Linked DNA regions of Homo sapiens. The protein of the gene in region 1 interacts with the protein of each later gene in a biochemical or structural test. Each region holds a gene or a part of one and is shown on either strand. Other genes may lie near its edges.

What was found. The genes of interacting proteins can lie anywhere in the genome.
Region 2: of the proteins of PTPN22 (region 1) and CDH2, one has a biochemical effect on the other in vitro, tested with the Homo sapiens proteins (one large-scale study listed by IntAct).

What each region holds. Positions count from the first base shown.
Region 1 is NC_000001.11:113,854,621-113,858,272, forward strand, and holds part of PTPN22 (tyrosine-protein phosphatase non-receptor type 22), read right to left. Parts: intron 3,397-3,652; exon of another isoform or gene 3,363-3,396; intron 3,157-3,362; coding exon 3,118-3,156; intron 3,038-3,117; exon of another isoform or gene 2,916-3,037; intron 2,105-2,915; exon of another isoform or gene 2,015-2,104; intron 2,000-2,014; coding exon 1,928-1,999; intron 1,822-1,927; coding exon 1,762-1,821; intron 430-1,761; coding exon 287-429; intron 1-286. UniProt on the Homo sapiens protein: Acts as a negative regulator of T-cell receptor (TCR) signaling by direct dephosphorylation of the Src family kinases LCK and FYN, ITAMs of the TCRz/CD3 complex, as well as ZAP70, VAV, VCP and other key signaling molecules.
Region 2 is NC_000018.10:28,170,610-28,174,261, forward strand, and holds part of CDH2 (cadherin-2 isoform 1 preproprotein), read right to left. Parts: intron 1-3,652. UniProt on the Homo sapiens protein: Calcium-dependent cell adhesion protein; preferentially mediates homotypic cell-cell adhesion by dimerization with a CDH2 chain from another cell. Cadherins may thus contribute to the sorting of heterogeneous cell types.

The DNA.
Region 1 (3,652 bases):
CAGATTTGAGGAAGAAGATACCTGGGGACAATTAAACTTTCCAAACCCCACCATTTCCCAGAGCCCATTTGTCATGCAAGAGGTCCTAGGCAACATCTCAGAGCAAGAGTCTCTAGAACTGTACTACTCACAAGTAACTTATCAGAAAAACATGAATTTAATGCTTAGGTTGAATTTATTATCGTTTGTTTTTGCTATTAACCTTTTCCCCTTTCAATTACACAGTCCTGGCCAGACTCTGACATTTGGTTCATTTTGGGTAGAAGGTTTATATATAGTGTCATACCTGCAGTGAATGCATATGGGAACACTGTCATCCTCTTGGTAACAACGTACATCCCAGATGAGCTCAAGAATAGGGTCTATAGATGAAGGTACATCATGGTCTGGCCAATTCTTGTAATGAAACTGGTAGATAGTTCGAGTTTCCTATAAAAAGTAGCCAGATGGGAGGGGAAGAGGGGCAAGGGCTGAAAAACCACCTATTGGGTATTATGCTCACTACCTGGGTGATGGGATTATTCAGTGGCATGCATGCAACAAACCTGCACATTTACGCCCTTGTGTCTTATATTCATAAGATTAAAGTTGAGGCTGGGTGTGGTGGCTTACGCCTGTAATCCTAGCACTTTGGGAGGCCGAAGCAGGCAGATTACTTGAGGTCAGGAGTTCAAGACCAACCTGGCCAACATGGGGAAACCCTGTCTCTACTAAAAATACAAAAGTTAGCCAGGCAAGGTGGTGAGCACCTGTAGTCCCAGCTACTGGGGAGGCCACGGCACAAGAGTTGCTTGGACCCAGGAGGCTCAGGTTGCAGTAAGCCAAGATTGCACCACTGCACACTCCACACTCCAGACTGGGTGACAGAGCGAGACTCTGTCTCAAAAAAAAAAAAAAAAAAAAAAAAGTTGAAATTATTTTAAAAATAGCCAGGATAATAAGACAACTTGTGGTTAGAACTCCACCTCATTATACCAAGACAACAGTCCGGCATACTAAGTTGTATCTATATCCTTTTTGAAATTTATTCCGGTTTCTTCTCTATAGATCTCAGGTGACCAGATGCTTTCTGAAAACCATTAAAAGTGATTTCAGGTCACTTACTATTGGTTTGTCCCCATCTGCCCCATTCACAAGAGGAAATAGCTAGATATGAAAATAGTTCAAACCAGTGTTTCCCAACTGGTATGCCTCCAATGTGTCACAATCATGCTGATATATTAAATCTTTTTGCCTTAGAGAAGCTGGGCAGGGCCTAGGGCAGCCTAAGCTCTCAAACTGGTCCCCAGTCTCTATGCACTGTTCAGCTTCTGTTCACCCTACAAATATTATCATTTTATATGTGTGCCATGGTATAGAATAGATTGAAGACATATTATAACAATGGTCTCTTCTTTTTTTCTTCTTCTTTGAGACACAGTCTTGCTCTGTCACCCAGGCTGCAGTACAGTGGCACCATCTCGGTTCACTGCAACCTCCACCTCCAGGGCTTAAATGATTTCTCCTGCCTAAGCCTCTTGACTAGCTGGAACCACAGGCATGCACCACCACGCCCAGCTAATTTTTTGTGTGTTTTTAGTAGAGACAGGTTTTTGCCATGTCGGCCAGGCTCAAAGTTCTCTTGAATATGAAGACTCATTCATGACATCAAAGACCCTACCACTTCCCATTGTCTTATGCCCAGCCTGAGCTACACACATCTATATTTACTTGCCTGATCTCTATAGGCTTTTGAGTTTATCATTCTTATTTTATACTTACACTATTGAACTTAACTTTTAGAGTCCTGATTATATAATCAGATTTCCTTTTTTCAGCTTCCTAAAAAGAAAAAGAAGACTCAAGTATTAGTGATTGCAAAGACAAGCTCTCTATAAGGTAGACCCTGGAGGCTTTACTCAGACATGAGAACAGACATTACACTTACACAGGATACAGAGAAAGGGCCAAATTCCAGCTGCATCTCTCCTGGCTCAGCCCAGTAGCGCTCACACTTTTTCTGTTGCACAAAGCAGAATACAGTGATTTCCCTCCATATATTCTAGTCTTTTCCACTCTCTCATTTGGAAGCAAATTCAGCTCTATGTCCTTCACCTTAGGTTAGGTGCGTCTAACCCCTTTGGGCTTCAACCCCTACATTATTGGAATCTCCAAAGATGGGAAAACAAACATTAAAGGATATATAAATTACAGACTTCCTGGGAGTCTGAAAAAGTAGAAATAGAAATCTTTGACCTATTTTTAGTATTTCACAAGAACTAACAGAAATCATATGTCTACTAAAACAGCTGCACAAGCTAAGTGAAATACCTAGTTCCCTTGCTTTTGATTAGAATTGTCAACTCAGAATGGCAACAGTAGAACAGTGATATCCAGTAAAAATATAATGTGAACCACAAATGTAATTTTAAATTTTCAAACAGACATATTAAAAAATGAAAAGAGGTGAAATTAATTTTAATAACATATCTTAGCCCAATATATCAAAACATTCTGACATGTAACCAATATAAAATAATTATCAGATATTTGGCATTTTTTACTAAGTCTTCAAAATCCAGTGTATATTTTATATTTATAGCTAATCTCAATTAGGATGCCAAATTTTGGAAATATTTTATTTCCATTTAGATTTAATAAAACTTACATTTGAAAAATTTTCACATACTCAAACAGCTTTCTGATAACTGAATTGCATGTCAGTTTTTAAGTTTAAATCAATTAAAATAATTGAGTTCCCCAGTCACATTAGCCATATTTTAAATGCTCAATAGCTGTATGTGGCTGGTGGATGCAATATTGGACGGCACAGGATTAAAAGCTCTGGCTGGCAGTTAAAGATATCTAATTAATAGAAATGGGCAAGTGATTTGTTAATCTTAAAAGCATACCTTGTTTTTAACTGTAAAACATAGGGTCTACTGAGAAAACAAACAAATAGGATTCTTAGGAGAAAAAAAAAATCCTCTGAGAATCACGTGGCATTCCCAAACTGAAAACTATGAAGATGACATAAGTTTTATCTAGGTACACTCAGGTAAGTTCTGCTGCCAATTTCCCTCTCCTTTTTCTTCTTTCCTTTGTTTTAAGGTCAGCAGGTACTAGAAAGTAACTTACCTTTCCCATTTCATACTCCATGCATGCCATAACAATGATCTGGGGGATGAAATAGATAGAAACTTAAACATTCATATATAGTTAGAAAGAGCAGTTAATACATGGATCCCAGACTCAGAAAGTATTAACCGTTCTTTTTTCTGTTTTGTCGTTTTTTTTTAACCAAAAAATAAATCCTGGTGACTTATAAAATATTGCTGCTACTCTTCCTTCATTCTGACAATACTTCCCCTTTCTCTGTTCAGACCAGTAATCTTGTTACCAAATGAGCCTGTCAAGGTAAGAACTTTCTCATTTTTAAATTTATTTTTATTATTTTTTAAAACTTATTTATTTTTGAGACAGGGTCTCATTCTGTCACCCAGGCTGGAGTGCTGTGGCACAATCTCAGCTTACTGCAGTCTCAACCTCATGGGCTCAAGCGATTCTCCCATATCAGCTTCCCCAGTAGCTGGGACTACAGGCACACACCACCACTCCCAGCTAATTTTTGTATTTTTTGTAGAGACAGGGTTTTGCAATGTTGCCCAGGCTG
Region 2 (3,652 bases), on another chromosome or scaffold:
GCTGGGATTACAGGCATCAGCCACCATGCCTGGCCCTCTGTAGCTTTTTTAGGTTCATGACTATTCCCAAAACATGAGGTGGCTTAACAATCGCTTTCTTGAACCTGAACTAGTAGAAAATGTTTTGTTCCCTACAGCAGGGGTTATTAAATTTAGCTTAACATTATGCCATAATTTCTTAAATCATTTCTTACTCATGGACTTTTAGAGATCAAATAATCCAATCTTTCGTAATCATAAGCAATGCTTCAATAAATATCTTCGTATATGTATCTATACCATGTGTTTGTCATAAATACATGCATACCTGTACCAAAAAAAAAAAAAAACTAGAGGAGGCCAGGAGCAGTGGCTCGTGTCTGTAATCCGAGCACTTCGGGAGGCCGAGGCAGGCGGATTCCCTGAAGTCAGGAGTTCGAGTCGAGACCAGCCTTGCCAACATGGTGAAACCTCATCTCTACTAAATATACAAAAATTAGCTGGGCATGGTGGCACACGTAATCCCAGCTACACAGGAGGCTGAGGCAGGAGAATTCCTTGAGCCCGGGAGACGGAGGATGTAGTTGAGCCAAGACTGTGCCACTGCACTCCAGCCTGACAGAGCGAGACTGTCTTTAAAAAAAAAAAAAAAAAAGCTAGAGGAAAACTTGACAAAGGGCTAGAGCTGTATTTTTAATGCTGACCCACTTATATTTTTAATGTTGACCCCCTATCACTCAATTCAATGGCTCTCCTGAAGGCTATCTTCTCTCAAAGAAACATGAGCTCATAAAACTAATAAAAAAAATTTTCTCAGTAATATTACACTTACCTTCATTTTAAGCCTAAAAATAATTTTTATTCTCAGTAATATTACACTTACCTTCCTTTAAGCCTAAACCCCTCCCCAAAATTGTTTACTTTTACTGGCAAAGGTAGCACAGCCAATGAAGAAAATTTTAAGTTTAAAATTCAGGCATATAAAAAATATAGATGACTTTAAACCTATCACGATAAACTACGGTTAATAAATCTTCAAAACTCACATTCTATCACTCCAAGTATCTGAAAATTCTTACATTTTCGGCTGAAAAAAGCCTTTCCACAACCTTCGAAAAGGAGATGTGTTTGAGATATTTTTTAAGTAGCCCCAGGAATCATGCAACTGGACAGTCTCTTAGAGATCAACTAATCCAACTAGGCCCAAGATTTTATTGTTGAGGAAAATGAGGTCACGGGACTTTAAGAGAGTAGACTACATCTGGACGAAATCAGAACCCCATGCTTCCTGCCCTGGACACTAGCTCTTGCCCTTGACACTACACAAGGGCATTCACTTACACAGATCAGTTATTATACTGTTGGTGCCTAAACCACCTTTCATGACATAAAGTAATCAATCAATTATTGATTGACACTTCATATCAGACTGTACTCAGTGTTGCAGGAGACTCATATGTATATAGCAGTCCTCAACATACATTTGGGGTGTGTGTGTGTGTGTGTGTGTGTGTGCGTGTGTGTATGCAATCCAAGGGCTTGGGGGCTGTAAGTACAGTTGGAAGCAGATGAGGAAGTGCACTGAGTACCAAAGAGTGAGCGACAAGGAATAAAAATCTAAGCAGAATTTAATCTAAATTTTCCTTAAAGAGACTATTATAACATAAATCATAATGTTTAAATCTACATCTTTCAAAAAGTCCCATTTAGCTTGTGAATTCACCTTGTTCTGCCTACTTTAGACCTATCACTTCATACATGCAGAAGATATAGCTCTTACTAAAACATTAATATGTATATACCTCTTCCTTGGCATGGATAAGGTTGTTTAATTAAAACTTACATGTATTTAGTTAAATACAAAGACTAGCATCTGCTCAAATTAACTGATGTCTTTTTCTGAAAAATTAAAATAAAAATAAAATTTTAGTAGAAAAAAACAGAAATGTGAGACACAGTGATTTGTTGGTACCAATTATGTTTCAACTTAAAACTCTTAACTTGAAAATACTTAGGTTCTAGCAAGTATACTGCTGTCAGAGCGAAATACTTATTCAGATGACAAAATCCAAATTTAAAAATCTATCACATTTTTAAATGGCTGACAAAAACCACCACCAAATCTAAGCAGTGCCTAAACTTGATTACTTTTTTGTATTTGAGCCAAAAGAACAAATCTGAATGTTAACCTGGGAAAAATGGTAGTGTATATACGAACACAACACTTCTTAAATAACAGCTCTGATTTTTAAAAATCACTCTTCTAACTTCATAATAACCCCTTGAAAAGAAGATGGGGATTTTAATCACTTAGGATTAAAAAAAATAGGATTTAAAGCAAGATTAACTGTTGCTTTAAGTCTTGACATTTCCCTATTAATAACCCTAAAGCTTAATGAGGCACAACAGATTTAAGAATTGAAATTGTTAATGAAAAAGAAAATTAAGGACAGTTTGGTGCTCTATACCATCATGAAAATAATCTGCTCCAGAAAGATTTTAGTCTCTACATGTAAAAAGCAAGAAATATCTAAAAAGTATTTCCTTGTAAAATCTCAGTCTGAACTTTTAGAAGGTTAGGGCAGACTTTGATGAAAGTATAAAAGTCAGAAAGTACCTATGGTTTAATATATAGTGTTTTAAAAACAAGTGAGGATACATAAAATACTGTTTTTCAAATTACACCTAGTATGTTTGTAACCTTTCACCTATTAGTAATGACCGCATGCCTCAAGTTAAGAAAAGCAAAGAAATATACATAACTGTGTCTAGTAAGTAAACTCTGAACACCAAGTTAACTCTTCTTATTTTCACAAGAACTTATGTTTCAAAAGCACATGAAAATCAAATAAATACTGAGAATAAACACGATTTACACTTAAAATCACTGCTGAATCCTTGCCACATTCTAGAACAAAGCTGCTTCTTTTTATGTATACTTCATATGTTGAATATTAATTTCTTTAAAATCTGTACCTAATAGGTGAAAAACACATAAGGTTTATCCATCGTTTTTCCAAGGTCCTCACGCAGGGTTGAAACCAGGATCTGTTAAGTCTTAGAAATGAATTTCTATGAACATTAAAATACTGTCCTAGATGCCCCATAACCCATACAAACGTATTTAAATTAGAACAATGGGGTTATGCAATTAAGATGTGAACTAGAAAAACAACACAGGTTTCTAATATATTAATTAACTAGGTCAATGGTAAAAGCAACATTGATTTTTTTTCTTAACAATAAACCTATGTAAAGATTTGAAAGTCACTTGTATTATTTAAAAGGAAAGCTAGTTATAACTTTGTGATATAATATTTTATACTTTTATCAGGTAAGCTGAATGCTCAAATTCGGATTTTTTAATATAAAAAAGGCTAACATCTTAAAATAAGACTAAAGAAAATCTTGATGTTGAACATCATAACATGCAAGATTGACTAGAATTATGTAAATCTACATAACAAGACTAACTAAACTAGTAATTTCTCTAAGTAAAATAAGGTACACAGACACTTCAGTTAACAATTCAAGGCACAGAGTCCTTTGAATATTCAATTATATTTAGCTTGTAAAAAAACAAGGGTGCTCCGTATCTGCACTAATAACCTACATATTCTCTTTTCTAAAACTATCGGCTGCTTAGTCTGGAATTTAAAAAAAAAAGAAAAAA